Linked DNA regions of Homo sapiens: regions 2, 3, 4, 5 and 6 are each reported to be linked to region 1. The links are microRNA targets in miRTarBase. Many come from high-throughput screens and were not tested one by one. Region 1 holds a microRNA gene; each other region holds the end of a gene's coding sequence.

Region 1 (4,086 bases):
CAGAAGATTCCAAGAACGTTTCGGTGCCAAATCAGGAAACACGCAGGCACACCTGGACAGGTGGGTCGGCCTCATGCAGGGATGCTTTGCCCTGCCCCGGCGTGGCCCTCCAGCAGCACAGTCGGCACGTCTCAGCACCACAGTGCCCCAGTTCCACCCAGAAGTTGCATCTGCCTCTGTTCACACTCCCCTGTGTAGAGGTGGCATGTGTCTCCACCAGCAGCCCAGGAGCCCCACGTGCCCAGCTTCCCTTCAGGAATTCCATGGCTGAAGGAATGGACCCCGAGGAGCCATCCTCCACCTGGGTCAGGGGCAGAGGCTGGAGAGGCCGGAGTGGAGGGGCTGGGGTGCCAGGAAGCACAGGTCTAGTCTCAGCAAAGTAGGGGCCTGTCCTCCTGGTGTCCCCAGGGACCAAGTAGGGGCCTGTTGTAAGACCACACCTCATTGCCACCTGAGGCCTTCCATTGGTCCTCCGAGGCCCTGGCTGAAATTCGGCCTCTTCAAGGATCCCCCACTGGCCCTCCCACCACATCAGCTCCAGTGACAGCTTGAGCTCTGCCCTGCTGAGCACTCAGGAAGTGTGCTGCATCATGTCAGGGGAACCTCCAGCGAGCTCCACGTCATCCTACAGAAGGAAGAAACAGGTCCTCCGAGGGGATAAGGGACTTGCCAAGGTCACTTGCTTGTAGGCATAGAGCTGGGGTTTGAATGCACGACAGACTCTCGGTCCCCTGTGCCAGAGGCAGGGAGGGTGGAGGAAGGTGCCTCTGTCTCTTCAATCCCTCAACCCTCCCACCTTGCCCATTCTCCTGGCCAGGTCCCCAGGGCCAGCCTACAGGCTCCAGCGGGAATGAGTGGGAGCCAGCCAAGGGAGCAGTGTTGTGGTGAGTGGGGGGAGTGGGAGCAGGCTGGAGCCCCTGAAAGTGGGGCCCCTGGGAGCCAAGCCCTTTCCCCAGCCTGGCTCCTTGAGGCAGTGCAGCTCAAACCCGAGGGAGGGGGTCTGGCCCAGTGGCCCAGGGGAGGTCACTGCAACGAGAAAGCTGGTGGCAGAGGCTGGGGGCTTCCCTGGAGACCAAAGTGCCAGAGGCAGAGTTGAGGGAGGGTCTTGGGTAAGGACCAGGCCACTGCCCCTCCACCAACCATCCTCATTTCTGCTTCTCTGAGATTAGAAGGAAAAGGCTGGCTTGCTTTCAAGGGAGAAACCACGCTGAGGCCTGGGGGAAAAGGACAAGCACCCCAGGGACACAGCGATGCTTTGGAACATGTTTATTGTCATCAGTCTAAATTGTACAGACGCACACCGGACAGAATGCCTCCAAGCCGCAGAACAGGGACACAGCCGCCATCTCCCACCTGAGCCTCAGCCCCTCTCACGGGGCTGCTGAGGGCTGAGGGCCCATGCAGAGGGCACGGGGGAACGTGCTTGTAAAATGAAATGGCTACAGGGGGCTGCGGTGGTCAGCAGGCAGCAGCTGGGGAAGACACTCCAACCCCTCCGATGCCACAGACCCACTGGGCGCTCCCACGGCCCCAAGCTCTGAAGCCAGATCCTGAGAGGTGGCCACAATGGCATTTGCTGAGCAACAGAGGAGGCACTGGCCAGTGGTGGATGCTCTCCCGGGAACTCCACTCCCCCCACCTGGGTGGCCAGGGGACCTTGCTGTCCTGCTGCTGGCCCTCTTCTGGAACAGCCCTCCACAGTCACCTCCTGTCTCCTCACATCAACCCCCTATGTGTGCAGGTCGGGCTCAGAGAGGGCAGGTGACTGGCCCAAGGCCACCCTAGCAGGCCTCAAACCCAGGCCTGTCTGACCCATCTCCCAGGACTCCCCGCAGCTCTCTAAACACTGGGTGAGGAGGTGGGGACTGGAGGGGGACCCTCCACCCCAGAGGACACAGCAGGCCAGGCAGCACCAGGCAGAAGACCCCGGCCCCTGGCTGGAGGTGGGGACAGATTCGACCCTTTGCTGAGTCCCTCCCAGGGCCGCCCGGGGCTTCACACGCAGATTGACGCGCACACCTCTCCTGTGGGCGCTAGCTACCACGAGGTTCCAGGGAGGCTCCGGCGAAGGCACCTGTCATCATGGGCGCCGCTTCTCCTCTACCTGGGTGTAGTCTGCAAACTTCCTCCCCACCCCCAGTTCCTGTGCCTCGAGGTCCTTCACGAGTTTAGCGCGCACTCGTAGGAGCCGCGCAGCGCTCCCTAAGGCCTCAGTGAGTGGAGACGCTCCGGGGAGCCGGCAGCGGGAACCATCGGCCGCCCAGCAGGGTGCGGCTGCCGGCAGCCTGATGGGCAGCTCCCAGGAAGCCCAGGGCAAGGAGCGCTCCTCAACCCTACGGGCCCACCGCCAGTTCCTCGCTGGGAATTCCACGGAGTTTCGAGGTGCGGGCCCTCGGGGTGCAAGAGGGCGGCGGCGGCGTCTCCAGGCCGGCAGCGCGCCAGGAGCGTGGGCAACCCAGCGCGCCCCCACCCAGCGGTTCCCACAGCACAGCCCGGCCACGCCCGGCCACCTCCCAGCAGCACTTGGCTCTCCGGCCGAGGGTCTTCCCTGGCAGCAGGTGGAGCCAGCCAGGCCCTGGGGACTGCGGGGCGCGGCGCATGGGGCGGCCGACCTGGAGCGCGGAGCCGGTCCGTGGGCTCCCCTGGATTGGTCGCCGGCGCACCCCTGACTGTGACTCTGACTCCAGGCCGCGCGTGGGACGCTCCGTCGCTGTCGCCGCGCCCGCCGGGTCTAGTGGTCCTAAACATTTCACAATTGCGCTACAGAACTGTTGAACTGTTAAGAACCACTGGACCCAGCGCGCGAGTCCCCAACACCGTCGGTTCGCCGAGCTGCGGAGAGAGGAGCCCCCGACGCCCTTGGGACCGCCCGCGTCGCCTGCGGATCCCGGGGACCGGCCCCTGCGCCCAGATCCCCGCTGGTCGCGCACCCCCTGCCCTGCTGCAGCCACCCGGCCCCGACGCCGTACCGGACGCCTTAGACGCCCTCGCCTGGCGCTGGGGGATCCCAGCCGCCAAGCCCAGCCCCGCCGCGTCCTCGCTGGCCCCGGCGTCCCCTCGTCCCGCGGGCCCCGCGTGGCAGGGCGGCTGAGCTCCGAGCGGCGGTGGCCAGCGCGGCGGCGCCTTTTATGCGGCGCAGCCGCCCTTCCCGGCGCCGGAATGTGCCCGCGCCGCGCTGGCCCGACCGGTTTTTCCGGGCGGGGCGGCTCCCGGGCCCATAGGTCCCGCGACTGATCCTCCACGGCCCGGGGACCTGCTCCGCGCGCCCGCGCGGGGGTGGCCCTGACTCAGCGGCCGCCCCGCCCCATCCGGCGCCCCAGCCTCCAGCGCCTGGCCTGGGCGCACCTGGCCTCCCGGGTTCTGGGTCCCCGCCGGGCCACGCCCGAACCGTCTCGTCTGGGCCGGGGGTGCTCGGGCGCACGGAGGGCCCGGGGCTCCACCTTGGCCGGGTCGAGGCCCAGGGTGGCCGGAACAGGTGAGGACCAGCGCCCGACAGGAGCCCAGGGCCGCGCTAGCTCTCCGGTGGGTGTGGGGGCTGGGCTGGACACACCCACCCCAGCCCCTCTCACTTCAAAGGGAACTTCGTGGGAGGGGGAAGGGGAGGGGTAAAGAGAAAGTGAAACTGGAGGGAGGGAGGTTTCTGCTTCTCAGACCCTGAACCCCCACCCCGCAGCCCACAGGGGTAGCCCCGTACCTGCCTCCTCATTTCCCACGCGGGGGGAGGGACGCCCTACCCCCTCACGCAGCAAGGGCCTGAGCCTCGCTCCCCCCACTCACAGCCCAGCCCCGAACGTCCTGGCGCAGCTGGCCCTGCCGGTCCTACCCACTTAGTCACCTGGAGGTGTCCAGGCCTGACCAGTGGCGCCTCCCAGGGACTCTGCTTCAGCAGAACATGGCAGCTGAGGGGAGGGCTCAGGCTCTAGGAAATACCCTAGAGCCCCCTTCAGCACTTGCCCCAAGTCTGGAGCCATTAGTGTGTCTGTATGGGGTTGGGCAGCAGGGTGGTGACCATTCATTCCAGTGCAGGGCGGTGACACGCCATCCCACCACCCGCCCAGCCAGCCAGGAGCCAAGTGCTCAGGAGCC
Region 2 (4,072 bases), not on the chromosome of region 1:
GGGTAACGTGGAATGGGCAGTGCCCTAGGCTGCAAGGCTTCTCCGACATCATCCCGGAACCAGCCTTTGCTTCCTTCCTCACATCGCAGAGCGCACCTGCAGTGCCCGTTCCGTTCCCTCCGACCTGTGCATCCTCCCCTTCCCTTCCTGGTCCCGCTGGCAGCCTGCCACCTGTGCCAGGACAAACAGCTGCACAGGGATGCCCTTTCCTGTTGCCATCCAGGGCAGAGCTCACCGTCTTCTCGGTACTCCTGCAGACACCAGCCACACATGTGCAGACGTGCATGGCTATTTGCTGACCTGTCTTCCCACCGTTCAGAAAACAAAAACCCGGGGAGCTCACTGCAAGAGTTGTTCCTGGGCTTCAATTCCTGGATCTGGCACCTGGCGCACAGTAGGTGCACAAGCAAATACCTGAGTGAATGAATGGATGTCTCCTCTTTGGGGATCACGTGGAAACCCCAGAAGTCAAGGCCCCAGTTTGGTCCCATCCAGCTGAAAACAGGTGTAAATAATGTAGGCTAAGCCCAGCGGAGAGAAAATCTGCAGCTTAGTTAGTCCTTTGCTTTGTTGAGCTAGATTCAGCTGAGTCAGGAAATCCTTCGTGATGGCAAGACGGGCTTGGGGCAAGCTGGGCCGCACAACTCACCCTCTCAACACAGACCTTGGATGTTGAAAGTGAATACAGTGCACTGTCCTCACAACGGGGAAAAGGAGGAGAACGGTATGCGGGATCCCCTGTACTAGCCTTACAACTTCCTGTGAATTTTCATTTCAAAATAAAAGGTTACAATGTACAGAGAGGATCTATGAAAGCCTTGGGGAGGCAGGTGTCAGCTCCATATGACAGCCTTTCTGACAAAGCTGTCTGAAAATGGAATGGGGTGCTTTAAAGACAGCCCTCACTCCCTAGAATCAGACAGCCGACCATAGCCACCCTCCCAAGCTGACAGTGTCCTTCAGCAGTGAGGGCCCAGCTCTGGAGCCAGATTGCCTGGGTTCAAATCCCAGCTCTAAAAGTTACTTATTCGACTATCCTGGACAAGTTATTTCATTTCTACAAGTCTTCATTTCTGCATTAAAAAATGGTAGCTAGGTCAGGCCCAGTGGCTCACGCCTATAATACCAACAAGTCGGACGCTGAAGCAGGATGATCACTTGAGCCCAGGAGTTTGAGACCAGCCTGGGCAACAAAGTGAGATTCCATCTAAACAAAAAAAAAAATTTTTCAATTAGCCGGGTGTGATGGCGTGCGCCTGTAGTCCCAGCTACTTGGGAGGCTAAAGTGGGAGGTTCACTTGAACGCAAGAATTTGAGGTTGCGGTGAGCTGTGGTCATTCCACTGCACTCCAGCCTGGGAGGGCAAGGCCTTGTCTCAAAAAAAAAGAAAAAGAAAAAAAAAGTAGATAAAACCACATGAGACTTTATTGGCAATTGTGAGTTACTCTTTCCACATGGCGACAGCCTGCAATGGGGGCTCCAGTTTGGCTTGCTGGTCTCTTCTGGGCAGCGGGCACTGCTGTCTCTACTTTCCAGGATGGCAGTTGGCCCGAGGGGCTCTAACCTGCCATTGGAACCTCACCCATAGCCCAGAAGCCTCATTCACAACCCTTCCCAGACTCCACTCCAACTTAGAGAACCTGAAAAATGGACATGTGGACATGTATCTGAAAGAAAGTCTAGGCGGTTGCACTTAGACAAGGGCCTACGGCTTTATTAACAGATGTCGAGGAAGCTTTCAGGTGCTGGTAGCCATGAGGGTCTGGTTTTAAGGATGGCCTTTAAGGAAAGGCCGTGGCAGGCGGGCTGAGAGGGGCGGCTCCAGCTCAGCCCTGCCCACAGCACAGGCTCACAGAAGCCGAGATCCACATCACCGCCTGGCATGCAAAGGAGTTGAAGACAAAACCATTTTTTTCCAGCTTCTCTACAAAGCCAATTACTAAGCAACAGTTATTAAAGTGAAGTATCCATTTACAGACTGACACAAATATCAAAAATAAGCAGCTTAGATGAGTACAGAGGCTGGAGTGCATTTTCTGCTAACAAAAACCACTGTGATATTCTCCCAGTTTAGAGGGAAAAGTCTATCTCAGGCCGACTCAGATGTGGCAGAAATAAGTGGGTCTGAAGTGCATTTTCAGTTGTTTCTGCCCGGAAGGAGCCCGGATGATACAAACAGGTCTGGGGTTCGTGGCTCTGGCAAGCGCCCAGAGACAACTGCGTCTCTGCCAGGACGCTCATCCTCACTGCGGCTGTCTGGGCAGATGGCTGTTGGCAGGCTAGGGACGACGATGAAAAACTGACAATATTTTAAAAACCCAGTAGGGTCCACAGCAGTGTTTGAAATGACAGGCTTTTTATTTCTCAGGAACAGCCGAGATGACCTCCAGAGGTTTCCAGCGAAGCTGTAACAATCCACCCTGCAGCTCTATGACAGGGAGGAGGGCGAATCAAATCCATCATCTTACGCCAGACTTCAGCCCTGCGGGAGCTGCTGCCTCCAAAGAAAGCGGGGACCTGGGCGGACTGCGTCTCTCCCCCGTGTGGAGAACGTGACAGATGTGAAGGTTGGGCTGACAGACACACGGCCTGCAGCAGCCCAGCCAGTCCCCCACAGCATCGAGCCAAGTCATTTAAAAAGGATTTAGGCCACTGCCTTTTTCTGAGGGAGGAGCGGCCAGCATGTGCCCCGCGGCTCACTGGGCCTGTCTAATCACACAGCAGTGGCAAAAGGAGTATCTGCCAGACGCTTCCTATCACTCTATTCTGTCTCCTCATCCACCTGAAGTTCACCCCGTTTCCCCAATGACTTAGAATGGCTTTGTGCTTAGTTTTAATTGTAGTTTGTGCTATTCTGTGAATTAACAATTCAAACAAAATAAGAAAGCCATGTTGTTAAACAGTAGAGGAGCCAGGGACTCTGTCTCCATTCTCTCATCACACACAAGTCATGCATCTACCAAAAAAAAAAAAACAAAAAAACACAACAACAAAAAAACTGTCCTCTGAGGAGGCACAGGTGTGACAGATAAGGAACCTGCAGCTCAGATTCAACAGGCACCTGCCAAGTCCACACTCAGGACTGTGACAGCCTCAACAACATGAGGTCCAGACACATTCACTGTGGAAGGCTCTGCCCACGCGAACAAAGCTGTCAGCTCTAGCAAAAGGGACACTGCCTTCTTCCTCCCTCACTTCTCACCTGGTAAGCCCGGGAATCAAAACAGCAAAAATGAGCCCCCAAAAAAGAGAGAGAGAGAGAGAAGCAGCCACTGTTACCAGCAGCACCCGCTGCACAGGCAGAAGCACCTCTGGTGCCACTTTCAAGACAAAACAAGAGCACAGTTGAAACATCTAATTTGAAAATGTTGATCTCCTTTCCTAAGACATTGCTAAGGGGCCCACAGGAAGGCTGGTGGCACCAGGGAATAAACCCTGGAAGTGGTGCAGCCACTCTGGGACCAGGCAGCTCCGGCCAGAGGCCTCAATCCATGGCAGCCAGCTGCTCGATGGCACGGCGCACTTTCTCCGCAGTTTCCTCAAATTCTTTCTTCTTATTGTTGGTTTCCTTTGCCTGGAAATAAAGAATAGACACATGACACTGAAACCAGAGCTTCCCAGTCACATCCTGTAGATAAGATGACAAAGGAAAAAACAATCAGGGAACACTGAGAGAGCACCTAAATAAACTGGGCACTGGGCTAGGCAGATTCCCAGCTACCTGGGACAAACATCCTGATTCAGCTCAACTCCCTCTAGTTTAAGCTGCCTCCTAATCATCGAATAACAGGAAACACTGACGGAGTGCTTGGTATGCACCCAGCACCACTCTACCTGCTTCCTCCATTAACTGATTTATGTTCACAGTGATCCTGCGCTGGGTGCTCCCATATCTCTACTATACAGGTGAGGAAACCGAGGTCCAGGCTGAAGGAGCCACTCAAAGTACCCAGCTAGTCTAGGCACCCCAGCTAGTCTGGGCACCCCAGCTAGTCTAGGCACCCCAGCTAGTCTAGGCAGAGCTCTGCTCTTAACCACTGCCCTACCTTTCTCCTGAAACTCCTGGAGGAAA
Region 3 (4,086 bases), not on the chromosome of region 1:
GAGGAAGGTAACACATATATAAACAGTATTTTGCTGCTTCAAGCCTAAAAGACTTTCCTCCTCAAATAATTAAGCTTTGGCTTAACTAGAATAAATCAGACTGAGCCGATCTCAAGCTATCTCTTGCAACTCCATCACAAAGTGCCTCAGTTCTGGCAACATTTTTGGCCCAACACGTAATTTGGATTCGGTTTATGGTACCCTTTGTTATGTGTTTCCCAAATAAGTTAGACTTAAAAGGGCATTGAGGAGTTAGTGCACTTGGGGTACAACCCAGGTCACTGTGCTCTAGTCAACTTGAGTGCCACTTGCAGCCACAACAGGGCACATGTTCTGAGACAGCATTAGATCTTGGGACCAAAAATAACACTTTTGAAATGTTAAGTCAGTGTCAAGCAAAAGTAGTTTTTACCTATGGGTTAGATGTCCTTTAAACATCTCAATACTCAAACCTATATATCCAAACCCAATGGGCATCTCCACACATAAACTGAGCTTACATCATACCCCACCCAACCCTTGCCACCTGACCAGATCAGACCTCCATGGGGACTAGTAATTGTCATACTTACTCCCCAGAAACCTTTTTATTCTCCTACCTCATAATACCCAGGACCTTATTTTTTCCATCAGGATGACGACTCCCTTCTTTGACCCAACTCCTGGCTACCTGGCATTACCCGGGCAGGAGATTATGCATTTAAACACAGGTACTTTTCACAGTTTCACACTAGGGACTGCCAAATGTTGGCTTTTATCATCTTTCTTTGATTTAGAACATTTCACATCATACAATAAACACTCTCCAAAGTGCTTCGCACCAATCCCTATGGGTCAGGAGTCAACCACGGGCAGGAAAAACCGCCAATGTTTTAAAAACAAAAGCTTTCCAAATGTGACCATGTTTCTCAAATACCAGTCATGCACCATTTTGGGTACAGAAAGGTAAGGAGATAGATATACCACCACTGAGGACAAAGAGGTAGTATCTCTGACCTACACACCTATTTCAGGGGATAGTTCTAGTTGCTCTAAGCCTGCAAATTTACAAGTCTGTAAATTAAGACCTGATAATTTCAGCCATGGAGCGAAAATCTTGGCTTTTCGATCACATCCATAGTAAAATGTCAAATAAGGAGCTCTAGTTACTGTTATGCACCAAGAACATTTCTCATTCAGGTCCCAAAATTTTCCTACATCTGGGGAAATTAGAAAGAAAAGAGCAGAATGAAAATGATGATGAAAAGATTTTAATCAAGATCCATCTCCTCAATAAAATTTTTTTCAAGCATTTAAAACCAGTTGTCTTTGGTGTTTAAAGGGTGGCTTGTTGGGCAGCTGGGGAAAGGGAAGGAAGATCAGCACCAAGTTACTCCAAAATAGAAAACAGTAAAAATGTTTAATTATATTAACTCTTTACCAAAGAACTTAGAGCTTAACGGCCAAAAGGCAACTGAATAGGCATTGGGGAAGGATTCACTATTAAATTCTACAGTAAAAGGAGCTTCTAACAAACAACATTTCCTAACACCTTCCCACCCTGTAACAGCAGCTGGGAGCCAGCAGCAGTTTGAAGCTACTTTCCAACTTTTGAATCTTTTATTGCATGCAGTTCTCCTCTGTGAGATGAGGTTTTTTTTTTCCTTCCCATTTTGGTCACTCAGAAACCCTAGAATTAAAGCAATGGGAAGAGACAGAGTAGCTTGTAGTAGTAGTAAATTAAACGTCCAAAAGAGGTGTACGGGAAAAGCAACTTGATTGACTTGTCACACTGTCCCCATCATCTCCTTTTCTATTGGGATAACAGAAACAAATTGCTCCATTTGTTAATCTGTTCTGCTCATTTAAAACGATACCCATTTTGCAATAGAAATTTCTCTTAAACAGAGGAACAGAAGTTGATCCATAAGTCTTTAAACAAGAGGTCTCCCTTGTAAGTCACTGACGTTTGTTTGAGAGTCCCTCTTTTCCCTGAGGAGGGCTCCTCCAGAATTTGGTTCTTATTTCAGTATTTGGGGCATTGCAGGAACCCACTGGGTTCTGACAAGCAGGGTATCAGCTACATCTGCTTTGCACTTGAAAGACAGACAATGCCCAGAAGCACAAGTTTTGTACCCAAGTCCAGCTTACAACCAACCAATCCTGTAAAGTGACACAGATTCTACCCCACAGTTCTGCAGTGGGAGCCTTAAATTTTCATTCTTTGGTACCGAGTTACAGGTTTAAGAAAAGACATTACATCCTACATTTCAGGTTGGGACAATTTGGTTTCTAGATCCTTTATGGTCAAAGGCCTTGGGGGGAGAGGGGGCGGGGGGATTCATGTTAACCATGAGGTCCTAAAGCATGGCCTGGGTGCAAACAATCCTATAAAAAGTGACCCAAGCAGAGGGTGTGGGACTGGGCTGTTGGTATTAATTTGACTTTCAAACCTTCTATTTCCCTGAACTTTCAAAGCAGGAAAAAATTGTGCTTGTAAAATAAAAGTTCTTTCCTTTGCCTACTCTTCTTAGGAAAAGAAACCCCTAGCACTACAGAACAACATGCACTCGCGGGTCAGGGCAGACCCTGCCCTTTCTGTGGAGTTCCTATAGTTTGGGGGTGCCTTGTTCTTTAATGTGCTCCCTGACTCCCTCAGCACACGCATGTCCACCCACATTCATGTCCACGTCAGCCCATGCCTGAAAACCCTCTCTCTGAGAACGAGGTTAATTTCCTTTTTCCTTCCATTTAACCCTTTATAACCTAACAGCAAAATAAGAAAGCATAACTTTTGAGAATATGTTTAATCAAAAATCCTGAGCTACCATCTATATACTTTTTTAAGAAACCAAAGTGTGAAAAGGAGAGGTTCTTTGGGAGGCAGTGTGTCATTTTCAGCTTTACTACTTGGGTGCAAGATGGCTTTGAAACAAACATGCACACACCCTCCCTTAAAAGAAACAAAGATTATATACCCTAAAATATGAAGGGTCTGCTTTTCTTGGCTAGCAAGCCACAGCCACAACGTCTAAGATCAAGAAACGATGCAGAAGAGGATGTTAAACACACTGAGGTATAAACAGAGAACAGAGGAAATTTCTCTGTTGCAGCATTTAAAAAGAGAAGATTTTCCAAAAAGATCAAAACAACACAACATAATCTAAACCCCATATAAACAGTATTCTCAAGAACACAGGTATTCTATAATTATGCATTTCAAATCCTATTTTTTCCATGTTTTATAGTTTTTTGTTTTTTTACTTAGTAGTTTTTTTTTGTGTTTCCTTGGCTCAATCTACAGAATACACCCCACCACACACATCCAGTGCCCTCCCAGCCATACAGATGCCAGGCTTGTGCATATCATGCCCCACGCAGGGGAAGAGGGAAATGCAAACTCCACTGAGGAGGGGAAGAGGGCCTGTTGCAGAAGGAAATGTAAAGATTTATGAGGTAGATAGAAATTATCACTTCACAGGCTCAATCCCTGCAGAAAAGATAAGTACATTCATCTGTAAAAAAATAAAGATGAGGTAGGACTTAAGCAATGTTGTACTTTTCTTGTTCTCTTTAAAAAAAAAAAAGAAAAAAGAAATTTCCCTGAGACTGTTTCTTCTTTGAAATTCAAAAAGAGAGAGAAAGAGAAAGAGAGAGAGAGAGAGAGAGACACGCACACACACCCCAAACACAGAAACCTAGGAAATGCAATTAGAAGACGAGGATTCGATTGTTGCCAAAGTCCACCACAACGATCATTCCGTCGGGGGTGATGGCGATGCCGGAAGGGCGGTCCATCTGCCCAAAGCCGCTGCCTTGAGCACCAAACTTGCACAGGAAGCTGCCGTTGGATTCAAACATCTGTACCCGATGGTTCCTGGAATCCGCCACAATGATGCGCCCTTCCTGGTCCACAGCTACCCCTTGTGGGCGCAGGAACTGCCCATTGCCTGTGCCCTCCGAGCCCAGAAAGCGTGCCGACTGGCAGTCGGGGTGAATAACCAGGAGCCGGTGGTTGTTGAAGTCAGTGACCACCAAGTGGCCCTCATGGTTGAAGGCCACACCCCGTGGGGAGTCAAAGTGCTTCCAGAGAGCCCCCTCGAAGCC
Region 4 (4,083 bases), not on the chromosome of region 1:
TCTTCTTTTGGTAACGCCTTCTCTCTCCACTTCAAGCCAGAGTCCAGCTAGAGGCTGCAATTTTATATGCCCCCTGGACCCCACCTGGTTAGTCCAGGTGGCTCCTAATTCAAGATGAGCCAATCAGAGCCCTTCCTGGGAACTCCAAAAGAAAGTTTGCTCTTACAACGCGTTAGGCCAGGTGGCTCCTAATTCAAGATGAGCCAAACAGAGGCCGTCCTGGGGACTTGAAAACAAAGTCTGCTCTTCCCACGGCCTGAACAGGACCTCACTGTGTGCCATCCAGGCTGAGTGCAATGACACAATCACAGCTTACTGCAGCCTCAAACTCCTGGGCTCAAGTGATCCTGCTGCCTCAGCCTCCAGAGTTGCTAGGGCTACAGGTGCATGTCACCACAACTGGCATTTTTTTAATTTTTTGTAGAAACAGTGTCTTACTTGTTGCCCAGGCTGGTCACAAACTCCTTGGCTCAAGCAATTCTCCCATCTCTGCCTCCCAAAGTGTTGGGATTACAGATGTGAGCCACCACATCTGGCTGAACTGGACATTAAAATATATAAATTAAGAGGTACTGGCATTCAAGTCACCACTGTATGGCAGATGCCAATCTAGAGTGAGAGATAATAAAGCTGATCTGTAGAGAGGAAGGGACAGCAGATGAAGGGGAGACCCAGTGGCACTGGTGTTCCTGACTCTTAGCTGGACCCGTGTCCTTTCTGCAATTTGGCTCTTTTTCTTTTCTTTTTTTTTGTTCTTTTTTTCTTTTTGATACGGAGTCTGGCTCTGTCATCCAGGCTGGAGTGCAGTAGCGTGATCTTGGCTCACTGAAGCCTCTGCTTCCCAGGTTCGAGAGATTCTCCTGCCTCAGCCTCCCGAGTAGCTGGGACTACAGGCATGTGCCACTATGCCTGGCTAATTTTTGTATTTTTTTTTTTTTTTTTTTTTAGTTGAGACAAGGTTTCACCATGTTGGCCAGGCTGGTCTTGAACTCCTGACCTCAAGTGATCCACCCACCTCAGCCTCCCAAAGTGCTGGGATTACGCGCGTGAGCCACCGTGCCCAGCCCGAAGTTTGGCTCTTCAACCCGTCTGTCAATAAGTGAGAGTCCCCCGTGTTCCTTCAGTAATGAACAAACATATTAATTATCAATTGCTGCATAAAAATGTAACCCCAAACACTGGCTTAAAACAACAAACACATATATGTATTTCACAGTTTCTCTTGGTCAGAAATTGGGGAGTGGCTCAGCTGAGTGGCTGTGGCTCAACCTGCAGTCAGGATGCCAGCTGGGGCTGCAATCTTCTGATGGCTTGACTGTGGCTGAAGGATCCACTTCCAAGGTGGCTCACCCACATGGCTCTTGTCCTGGCAGAAGGCCTCATTCTGTGCTGACTGTTGGCAGGTCTGTTTGACTGGCTGTTGGTAAAAGGCCTCAGTTTCTCACCACATGGACCTCTCTGTAGGCTGCTTGTGTGTCCTCACAACATGGCTGCCTTCCCTCAGAGCAAACAATCCAAGGGAGAGAGCAAGGAGAAAGCCACTGTGCCCTACATGATGTATTCTCTGAAACTGCAGGTCACTTTCACTTTATTCTGTTTTTTTGTTTGTTTTTTTGAGACGGAGTCTTGCTCTGTCTCCCAGGCTGGAGTGCAGTGGCACAATCTTGGTTCACTGCAACTTCTGCCTCCCGGGTTCAAGCGATTCTCCTGCCTCAGCCTCCTGAGTAGCTGGGATTACAGGCGCGTGCCATCATGCCTGGCTAATTTTTGTATTTTCAGTAGAGACGGGGTTTCACCATGTTGGTCAGGCTGGTCTCAAACTCCTGACCTTGTGATCCCCCCCCCTCGGCCTCTCAAAGTGCCAGGATTACAGGTGTGAGCCACCACGCCTGGCCTATTCTGTTCTTTAGAAGATCACCATATTGAGCCCACTCTTAAGAGAAAGACAAATAGGTTCCACGCAGGGAATCAGTGTGTCTAATTTTGAGGTCTCTCCATTCTCACTGACCACTGCCGTCCTGCTGGCCTCTGGGATTCCAAGCTTGGGTGTTTCCTCACCGTATCACCTGAAAGCCGTCCCTGGGGTGTCTAGCTGTTTCAGAGGTGGCTCGGGCCTTCAGGCACAGTTCTCTGTTTTGTCCCAACCTTCTCAGCTCTGATACAACTGAGTGATTCTACTGCTTGTAAGAGGCAGTTCTGCCCTGGCAGGTACCAATCCTTCCCAACCCCACTGTGCAGATAGAGAATATTTTAAAATTACAAAACGGGGGCACAATGTATGAACAGAATATTTGAAATTTTTTTCTGCCCTCAAAAATCTGGGGCCCAAGGTTGTTATATCTTCATGTCCTCATTTCTTAGGGAGGTACCTTCAGAACCAATAGTGACCCCTAACTTCTCTGGTGGTCGGTTCCATGAAAGGCAAAGGAGTGTGAGAGAGGAGTGGATGGTCAACCTCCCACTGCCATGGTAACATGGGTGCTGGCTGATGGGAGCAGAAAATAATTTAGTGAAAGTCTGTGGGGGCAGTCACAAGATGTCTGAGAAAACTGGCGAGCCAGCTGCTGAAAACAGGGACAAGGAAGCCTCCGTGGCTGGAGCCCAAATCACACTGCAGACCCAGACACCGTGACCACCACCATGGACTCCAGAGAGAGCAGCTTATAGTACTCAATCAGCTGCCACTACCACCATCCAGAACACCAGATGTTGTAGCCATGGCTGCAGCAGGAATGGATGTCCCACTGTCCCTGCTCCTCGGTGTGACTTGCTCCCAAGTTCAGGGCAGGTCCATCTGATTGGCTGAGTCTGGAATATCTGCCTGTGCCTCAGCTGTGAGGGAGGCAGGGAAAGTAAGCCTTTTCAGCTTCTGTCGTGGGAGGTGGGCTCTGCCTCCTACCAAGAATCAAAGGGTGGAGGATCTTCAAACACAGGAAAAGAACCCGGATCCTGGCACCCCCAAATTTTCAGAGTCCATTTCAGAGCATAAGAAATTGAGGGTCCAAGATCATTCATGTAAGAAGTTTAGAGGGGGAAGAAAAGAATGATAAACGAAAAGAACAGCAATAGTAAAGGATCTTTTCTTTGTTTCAGTAAGATGAAGAGGCCTGAGCAGTTTCGTGGAGGGGAAGAAACAGGAAAACCTCTTCAAAAGACAAAAAGCTGGCACTGCATTCTCTCTCTGTAGCAGGACAGAACTGTCTAAAGACAAGACCCCTTTGGCCAAAATAAAGGAACCTGAAACATTACTAATGACCCTTCAAAAGCTTCAGTTGTTTGTTTCCTTTAATTAACATCTAAATAGATTATACATCTTCTATAATTATAATATGGAAATGTATATGAGCAAAATATATAAATTTTTTGGTGACTGCTTAGGGAAGAATGATGTCAGTGAAGTTCATCCAAGGTCTTAAGCAGCAGCATCTATGCAGCCAGGGCGTGGTCAGCGTTTGGGGACAGAGGTAAATATCCGCAATCCATGCATCTCTTTGATTTCTTCTTTTAGTGCCTAAGTAAGAAAACAGCATCATCAGTTTTTGTGTATTTGACGTTGATTACAGTAATTCTCTGAGAGTATTTTTATACAGCTCTGCATCTGAAGGAGACTTTGTATGTGCTTTGTTTAAGCAATTTTTCCTTTTTTTGAAAAACAATTTTTTTTAAATCAATAATATCTAACATGATTTAAAGATTCAAAGGTACAAAAAGGCATTCAGGGAAGTCTCCCTCCTATACCTGTCCATCTCCCCAGTTTCCACCCTTGTTCCCAAAAGAACTGTTGTTAGTTTCTTGTGTATCTTTTTTTTTTTTTTTTTTTAAGTCATGGTCTCGCTCTAGCGCCGAAGTTGGAGTGCAGTGGCGCGATATCGGCTTACTGCAAACTCCACCTCCTGGGCTCAAACAATCTTCCTGCTTCAGCCTCCCTAGTAGCTGGGACTACAGGCACATGCCACCATGCCTGGCTAATTTTTTTATTTTTTGTAGAGGCAGGGTCTCACTATATTGCCTAGGCTGGTCTTGAACTCCTGGACTGGAGCAATCTGCCTGTCTTGGCTTCCCAAAGTGCCGGAATTACAAGCG
Region 5 (4,082 bases), not on the chromosome of region 1:
TGCCCCAAGAGTCCCTAGGATAATCTGCCACCCTTGGTTCTGCCCAAGCGCCCCTTCCTCCCTCCTTCCCTCCCGCGCTTCCCCGTATCTGCACCGTCGCCATTCCCACCGTCCACACCCTCACTTCCCACCCCGCTCACTAGGGAGGCGCGTTCCATCATCCTCCCCCAAACGGTCCCATCACCTCACCCCTCACCTCCTTTATCATTTCCACGATCTCCCCAGCTTGCAGCTTCAGCTCGTCCGCCTGCTCTGGGCTGTAGCTGAAGTTCACTTTGCACCATCTTTGGGGCCTCGGGTGTTTGGCAGGATGACCTAGCACCGGACAAGCGCGGCTGAGCTCCAGTCGGACGCCCCAGTCAGAGGAGCTGGGGGAAGCGCAAGGCGCGCACGTAGCCTTTGGTCCCTCCAGCCCCGCCCCAGGGCGGAGCATTGCACTCGAGAACCAATCACAGACCGCAGGGCGGCCCCGAGGTCCCGCCCAGAGCCGCGCCCGTCACTAAGAGCCGGAGACGCCGGGGTCGCACTGGCTCCGTGCACCCGCCCACCGGCGCCCGTCCCCGCCCTTGCGCTCACCTCGGCGGCGCGCACAGCGCGGCCTCCGCGCCTCTCCGGAGCCCCGCAGGGTCTCTGGGATCTCCTGGGAATCAGGGCACGGGGAAGGCGCTCTCAGCTCCCGGGGGGCGCGCGCTGAGACCCCACAGCCCGCCCCTGGCTCGGCCTCACCTGCACCAGGCGCTCGGGGAAGAGGCCATAGCGGCCCCCAAACTCTCCGCGAAGCCAGCCCCGCGCGGGCACCCAGCGCACCTGCCGGACCACGTCCCCGGGCGCCAGACTCAGCTCGTCCTCCTTCTGCGCGCGGTATCCGGCCAGGACGAGGACTTCTGCGGGCGGAAGACGGGGCCGGCGTGCGGCTCAGAAAGGCCCAGCCGGGCAGCCTGGCTAGGGCGGGCGTGTCCCCAAGCACCGTAGAGGGCAGCGGGGGTCGGGGGGTGGTGTGGGCTCTTGCTATGTCCACGGTTGCAGAGAGAGGCCACCTCAAAGCCTCCGCACTTACCCATGGTTTCCGGGGCGCCCTCCAGAGCCTGGCAGCTCCCTCTGACGGCCGAGTACTGGGCCCGCGCAGGGTGCGACCTGAGGCAAGACAGTAGGGTAAAGGAGGCGTAGCCGCCAGCCGATAGGTCGGGCCAGGTGCTGGGAGTGGGTGTGGAGAGGGGGCGGCCCGGCTCAGCAGGTCCGGCCCCCAACCCCGGGGTGAGGAGGACTCCAGGGTCTCTGGCCTGTGCAGCGGTCACAGCTCCGTCACAGGTTCTTCCGCCCACCTAAATTTTAGGCCAGCCGCCTCTCCCTTTCCCTCAGCTTTTGCCCGGAGGCTCCCAGCTACAATTTGCACAGAGCCTTTCCAGGCCCACCCTTCCCCAGCTCACAAGCTTTTGGCTTGAGGGGAAAAGGTGGGGAGAGGCACATACCAGGGTGGGGCCCCCCAGCAAGTAGCAACCGCTCTAAACCGGCCTTGAGTGAATGAAGTGGCTGCCCTTGTACCAGCAATAGCTTTGAGTGGACACTTCCAGTCTGCTTTCCTTCAAGGCGTACTCCTCTCTGGCCCCGTACCCACTCTCTACCCCCATATAGGAAGGACACAGCAAAGACCCCTGCTTTGGGGCCAGAGGTCTAGTTTGGTTTCAGAAAACACCTCCAGGTTTTCCCTGGGAGTTAGGCCGGGAGAATGAATTTTACCAGCTTCCAAGATTTCTGCTCACAGTTGAGTCCCCAGCCGGCAGGAGTCTGAAGGTTAGGGCCCACCCTATGGCCAGTCCATGTGGGATAGGCTCTTTCAGGTAGAAGGCTGAGCCTACTAACCACATCCCTTGATCCCTGCCCCACCACCATGATGAAGGAAGCCAAAGTCCTTGCCTATGACACCAGTGGAAAAAATCTGTTTCTCCTGGGGTGTCCAAGGTACACAATGCTCCTCCCAGGAAGGACTGTGTCTGTCTGGGACTCCAGCAGCCTGCGCAAGGCCCCACAGGCCCTTTGTCTTTCAGGTTTTCTGAAACTGCCGTGGGAAGTTATCTACCACCCTCAACACACACACACACTCAGGATGACAATGAACAGAACCCGTTTACATCTGCCACTTCATTTATTTTATTTGCAGGAGGAGTTGAAACAAATTTTAAGGGAGATTTTCATTTTCCCCCTAAACATGAATCATTCAAGTAAAACCAACTTAACTATAGAAATGTAGCAAAGTAAGGGGAAAGCAGCACAACAACGCAAGAGGCAAAGGCTGGGGGGGAGAGGTGGGTGCAGTCCGCATATAACATATGCATAAATGCCTTATGATTCACCTGCTCAGGACCGCCTCCCCAGAAGGCAAGCACAAGGACCCATTTTAAGAGGATGTTTCCCCCCAAACATCTGAGAATGCTTCAACTTAAACAGCTTAAGGTTAAAAAGACAAAGAAAAAAAAAAAGAAACCCAAAAAAACCCCTGAACCACCCAGCCATAACCACCTTCCTTAATCGATCATAGGAGTTTCTTTTCATTTTATAAAAAGATTAATAAAAAATATTGAAAAAATTTTCTCATATTTGTAAAGATAATAGAATTCATAAGTTTCTTAGAAAACAGACCAGACACTGCCCTCCAGTTTCCACCCCGTTGCTGGGAGGATCAGCAGGACTAGAAAGTTTGGGATACTGGAGCTGCTGGTGGAGAACGGGGAAGTCCAGCCCAGAAGAAATCAGGAAATAGGGCTCAGGGGCACGTGAGGTGTGGTAAGGAGCAACTCCACGTGATACATGGCTGCGCAGAAAAGGGGAACACAAGGTGGTCGGAAAGGCCTTAAACTCCTCCTTGACATACAAAACCGGTTTTTACAAAGATCCAAGCAGTTTGGTCCCAAACTGAGGTGAACACTTCAAAGTTTATTCACATGCTTTTGTTTTCTCTTTCAAGAATCAAAGTTTCCCAAATTAAATGTTTCTAATATTACTACATATGCCTAAAAAAAGAAAAAAAAAAAAAAAAAGGAGGGGGCTTTTAAAATCAGGACAGGGGAAAAGAGATCGAAAATCATCAAATTAGTCATCTTAGCTCCAAATGAAATGAAATTAGAACAAAACTGTTGGTTTCTAATAGGAAACAAAAATCCAAGCATCGCTCTCCCGCCCTACCCCTGCCCCCACCCCACACACCAACAAATGAGAAAAACAGCTAAAGCCCAATGCGTTGTATTCTGCTCAAAAGCTGGGCCTGACCCCTGGGCCCCATGGCCAGCCTCCTCTGTCCAGTGGGAGACAGCGCCAGGGATGCCTCTCGCGGTAGTACAATCTGTGCGGCTGGTGGGGGGTGGGGGTAGGATTTTCAGAATCTTCTTGAGGTTCCTCTGTTAAGCTCCTCACCAGCCATCTTCCCAGCGCCTCTCTCCCCTGGGCAGGAATCCCGTCAAGGGTGGCCCCTACTCGGTTGTGGGCTGTATATTGTCCTTCTCTTCTCGGTTCTCTGTCCCACTCTCGTCGTCTTCAATCTCCCCTTCCTCCCCACTGAACTTGTCATGGGCCCACTTGGGGCTGGTACTTGATTTCCGGAACATGAACCGGCCCCGACCCCGAGGAAAGGCTCCTCGGCCCCGGCCCCGGCTCACCCACTTGTCACTGCCTTCGCCTTCACGGTCATCATGCTGAGGGGAAAGAAAATTGCCATCAGTGCCAGAGTGAACAAGATGTGGCCAGAGCTCTCTTCTCTGCACGCACCCAAATGTGCCTTTCCCAAAAGAACCTGTGCCCTAACCCAGCCTTTTGATCCTTTTCTGCACTTCTCCCTGTCCCCCACTCCAAAAATGCCAGTGGTTCAGATCCATGAGAATATCAGTTGGGTGATTTAGGAATTTTAAGGTAACAGCTTGGGCATTGTAACGATGATTGACAATGATGATGATTCACTGAGCAAGAACCCTTAATAGTTTAAAGAAAATAAAAACGTCACTGAGCACTGAAGTAAGACATTTATGTACTATCTCATTTAATTCTCCTATCTACCCTATCATTATCACCTCCCACTCTGCAAACGTGCTTAA
Region 6 (4,086 bases), not on the chromosome of region 1:
AAAAAAAAAAAAAAAAAGAATTAGCTGAGAACTTGGACTTGGAGTCTCAGCATTTTTATTTTTTTCCTTTCTGGTTAACAAGCGACCCTCAGTCCCTGTTCCATCTCTCTCCCCTCCCGAGTCAGGCTACAACAGGTGCCCTGTGGCCCCACCGCACCAGGGCCTGCACCCCATCCACCAGCGCCACATCACTATGCCCACAAGCGTCCCCCAGCAGCAGGTCTTTGGCCTGGCGGAACCCAAGAGGAAGTCCTCGCTCTTCTGGCACACCTTCAACAGGCTCACCCCCTTCCGGAAATGAAAACAGGAGGCTGTGCTTCCATGGAGCTGGGTGTCAAGAGAAGAACTGTCTTTGTTTCTTGTGTGCTTCAATCCAGGGAAAGTTTCTTGGACCCAGTGATAAAAACTTCCTTTTAGGGATCAATGAAGGAGAGAAGGTCTTGGAATCACCTTCAGTCTTTGGAGACCCAGCTGCCTTTGTGGAAGGGAGGAGACGGTCATGACACAAAGCTTTATCCTACACAGAAACACCCGTGACCCACTATGAGATGGCCCAGATGTGGGACCCGGTACCATGCTCTAAAGCGAGTGATTAGGCAGCAGCTGAAGCCACCCCTGCTGATGATGAGCAAGTGCCTGCTGCAGGTCCAAACACAGCATCCAGGGCTTTGCAGTTCCTAAGGAGTGATGAGGTTAGAGGATCACTTCTGCATTTGATTTTCAAGGATGCCGTCAAGACGGGGTTGACACAATGCTGCACGTGTCTGGTCACACTTAGAAATTGAGCTCTTACTCTCTTCTGTAATACTGGGGGACCTACAGCTGCCGTGGGGCTGACCACGGTGTTCCCTGGCATCGTCTGTGTCCACACAGATGCTAACTGGTAGTGCAAATGTCATCCTGCAAGGTTCCTCTTCCTGCAAGCAAAGTGGAGAGAAAGAAGATGCATCTGTCACCTTCATCAGGGTCCTCAGTGCAGAGCAACTTACGCATCCTCAAGAATCCACTGCTTTTCAGGCAAGGAGGGAGAAATCCTGCTGCACACTGGCTTTGTCCCGGAGTCGGATTCCCTCCTGCCTGCACGCCTTCAGTAACTCCGAGCAGAAATCACATCTTGCCCACATGCTGTAACCTAAGAAACTGCTATGCAAGGCTGGGTGCTGTGGCTCATGCCTGTAATCCCAGCACTTTGGGAGGCCAAGGCAGGTGGATCACCTGAGGTCAGGAGTTCGAGACAAGCGTGGCCAATATGGCAAAGCCCAGTCTCTACTAATAATACAAAAATTAGCTGGGCATGGTGGCGCATGCCTGTAATCCCAGCTACTGGGAAGGCTGAGGTAGGAGAATCTTTTGAATCTGGGAAGCGGAGGTTGCAGTGAGCTGAGATCGCACCACTGCACTCCAGCCTGGGAGATACAGCGAGACTGTCTCCAAAAACAAAAACAAAAACAAAAAACATTCAAACAACTGTTTGCAATATAAAAAGCTCATTTACTGTAATATTTATGATACAGTGAATATGAAAATGCACTGGTCAGAAGGCACTCTCAAAGAGCCGCACTGCTCCTGACATCGTCCTTAGCAATGAAGTCACAAAGACAGCCAAAGCAGTCCTGCTTCTTGGAAATCAGAAGCTGCCTTTATCACATATAAAGCCAAACAGGGCATAACCATGTCACGTGAGCATGTCATCAGGCTTCTGAGGACTTGTTCTTTATAAAAAAAGACCTTCACAAAATATCTTGGCTTAGAGATAGCAGTCTTTATTAACAAAGGCCACCTAGGCTGACACCTGCAGATAATCATCTCCTTTTCTTTGTCTATGTTGTACATTTTCATGATATAACTTTTAACTATGTCTAGAGAAGGCAGGCTCTGCAAGAGAGGTGCCCTTTCAACCCGCTCAGTGCCCTGGACAGGAGATGCTGTGTTAAACTGTTAATGGATATCTATATGAGAAGCTCATTTTTGTATGCTATCCCTGCAGTTTTTTTTTTTCTAACAGGCCCATGTTTGAGAATAAACAAGTCTGTGATGTCAGAGACAAAGGTGTATTCTTCAGTCTGCAGGTGTGTGGCACCTCCCTTCTCCCCTGCAGCCCCCCACATCCAGAGCCGTTCCTGAGAGTGACATCATGCATCAAGAAAACATAACCTTGGTCCTCAGGTGAACCCTTGGAACATTCTGTGACCGCCTGATGTCCATTCTGAGCCACCTTGGCACACATGCTTACAGGCAGCACTGCTAAGGGTTCAGGTGCCCCATGGCTGACAGCCCGAGTTGCTTCTGTGGACCATCATGCCGCTCGGCACGTCCTGAGACAGAAGTTGCTGCAGGAAGGAGCTTCTGGAGAGGTCCTGTGGCATGTGTGGGGGTGTGTGTGTGTATGTTTCCTTCTTGAACAGACATTCCAACTTTAGATGTGTTTATAGAACTGACCTTTTTACTAACAAAATACAATGATATATGTTGGAAACTACTTAATATGCTTTTCCTGCACACCTTAGCAATAACTGTAGGGGTCTCTGCTAGAGTTGTTTGTATGTACAGCAATTTTGAACAAATTGTTTTAAATGTAATATAAGAGAATTAGTTTAAGGAAGTAAAGAGAATCATTTGCTTGTGTTACATTTTCAGTGAGGATTCAGTTTAAGAGTCATTCTTAGGACTTCCATTTCCTAATATTTATTCATGGGTAATGAAGAAATGGTTTGCATTTTGTGGCCAGTCCTAATTTATTTTCCAGCTGAGCCCTAACTTCCGGCTCCCACCTACCTCCACGGACTTCCTAACAGAGACTTATGAATACCAGGATGTGTTTTTGTTAAGTCAGGTTCAATTCGTTGCCCCTGTCAGTTTTATAGAGTGTGAGGGTCACTCCATTAAAGATCTCTCCTGGGTGGATCCTACTTGGATGTTCAGGTGATTTTGAAAACTGCTAACATTTTTAAAAGGCTAGAACATCCTTTGACTTCTTGAAAATCTGCATGTCTGGCTTGGGTTTTATTACCACATGCCTGAGTTCTTCAAGAATGGAAGGCTCAAGTATTCTCATCTTCCATTTGCCAAACTTCCTTCCTGATTTGAGTCACGTGTTCCACTTGGAAAGAAAGGGAACAGAGAGCCTCCTCCATGGACAGTGTATGAATTTCATTGGGAATCTTGCTCTCTCCCGCCTCTATGCCTTTCTCTCTTTTTAACCTTACTTTACATAATATTATAGATGGGCCAAGAAAAGAAAAGATGACATAACATTTTGATGAATTTCACCTATTCCATTCTTCACGTTTCAGAATTGGTCGACTTTGTTAGAAGATAATTGAAGTAGCCTTGGGTCAAAAGCAACCTTTTCAATTGTGATCATACCTAAAACATATAAAAACCCTGCCGTAGATTAAAAGCAATTATAAAATCATAAAATTGAATGTTTGCAGAATCCTGGAGCAGTAGATTTCTTTGTCTTTGGCCTGCGGACTAGAAAGAGGGCAGCAGTAGTATGCTGGAGCTTCCCTGGGATACCAGCCACATGGTTTCTTTTCATTAGATCTGATTTTTGTTTCCCACTGTAGATCTGATTTTGTAGTTGAAAACATTTCACCACCATCAAACACTATTTCTGAATATTGTGCCTTTTTATACCTAGCCTAGATGAAAACCGATGCCATTCTTATTCAGAAAATCCCCCCATCCTACATGACTGTTATCTAGACATAAAGCAAAGTGCATTTAATTCAAAATTTGGTTCACAATATAAGTATTTTGTAAAAGCCAGCTGAACCAGCATTTTATCAGGTGGAAATCTCTGCAAGCCAAATTGCTGATACTCCTTCATGCAGATCAACTTGGTGTCCCAGTCAGAATAGAACAGCATAATTACCTGGAGTTAGGGGGAGTATTTCTGCACTATTACTTGTCAGGGAGAGAAGAAACTTAGAATTGTCCCTCAAAGGAGTGTCAAGAAGTATGAATAAATGTCCTTTCACCAGCTCACAGGCCAGAAATGGAGGACCCAAGTCAACTAGGTGAAACTACTAGCAGACCCAGCTTTCCCATAATAACCTAATCTGCAAATTGTTCTATTAAAGT

What was found. The annotated mature microRNA hsa-miR-203a-3p reads GUGAAAUGUUUAGGACCACUAG and lies in region 1 at 2,732-2,753, opposite strand. An mRNA with a match to its seed (bases 2 to 7 or 8) in the 3' UTR can be bound and repressed. Matches are read on the target gene's strand: a 7mer-m8 pairs with bases 2 to 8, a 7mer-A1 pairs with bases 2 to 7 and ends in A, and an 8mer does both.
Region 2: the mRNA of BIRC5 is a reported target of hsa-miR-203a-3p. Seed matches in the 3' UTR shown: 8mer at 2,341-2,348.
Region 3: miRTarBase lists TRIM71 as a target of hsa-miR-203a-3p. Seed matches in the 3' UTR shown: 7mer-A1 at 3,600-3,606 and 8mer at 373-380.
Region 4: miRTarBase lists BOLA3 as a target of hsa-miR-203a-3p. The part of its 3' UTR that is shown has no 7-base or 8-base seed match.
Region 5: the mRNA of THRAP3 is a reported target of hsa-miR-203a-3p. Seed matches in the 3' UTR shown: 7mer-m8 at 3,108-3,114.
Region 6: miRTarBase lists SPATA13 as a target of hsa-miR-203a-3p. Seed matches in the 3' UTR shown: 7mer-m8 at 3,591-3,597.

The regions. Positions count from the first base shown.
Region 1 is chr14:104,116,136-104,120,221 of GRCh38, reverse strand. It overlaps MIR203A (microRNA 203a), which reads right to left and starts at 2,817; the gene lies at 2,708-2,817. It overlaps MIR203B (microRNA 203b), which reads left to right and starts at 2,719; the gene lies at 2,719-2,804.
Region 2 is chr17:78,222,967-78,227,038 of GRCh38, reverse strand. BIRC5 (baculoviral IAP repeat containing 5) reads right to left here. Exons shown (of 4, transcript NM_001168.3): 4 at 1,404-3,574. The coding sequence ends at 3,485. Among named protein-coding and RNA genes, the nearest start is that of TMEM235, 6.6 kb to the left of the region's middle.
Region 3 is chr3:32,891,416-32,895,501 of GRCh38, reverse strand. It overlaps TRIM71 (tripartite motif containing 71), which reads right to left. Exons shown (of 4, transcript NM_001039111.3): 4 at 1-4,086. The coding sequence ends at 3,691. Among named protein-coding and RNA genes, the nearest start is that of CCR4, 58 kb to the left of the region's middle.
Region 4 is chr2:74,132,148-74,136,230 of GRCh38, forward strand. BOLA3 (bolA family member 3) reads right to left here. Exons shown (of 4, transcript NM_212552.3): 4 at 3,253-3,511. The coding sequence ends at 3,446. It also overlaps a transcript of TET3 not described here. Among named protein-coding and RNA genes, the nearest start is that of BOLA3, 14 kb to the right of the region's middle.
Region 5 is chr1:36,303,400-36,307,481 of GRCh38, reverse strand. It overlaps THRAP3 (thyroid hormone receptor associated protein 3), which reads right to left. Exons shown (of 12, transcript NM_005119.4): 12 at 2,125-3,686. The coding sequence ends at 3,465. It overlaps SH3D21 (SH3 domain containing 21), which reads right to left and starts at 1,114. Exons shown (of 16, transcript NM_001162530.2): 1 at 1,058-1,114; 2 at 727-884; 3 at 577-640; 4 at 197-315. The coding sequence starts at 1,061. RefSeq lists enhancers at 214-263, 66-866 and silencers at 364-803, 1,024-1,073.
Region 6 is chr13:24,302,473-24,306,558 of GRCh38, forward strand. SPATA13 (spermatogenesis associated 13) reads left to right here. Exons shown (of 13, transcript NM_001166271.3): 13 at 126-4,086. The coding sequence ends at 301. Among named protein-coding and RNA genes, the nearest start is that of C1QTNF9, 5.1 kb to the right of the region's middle.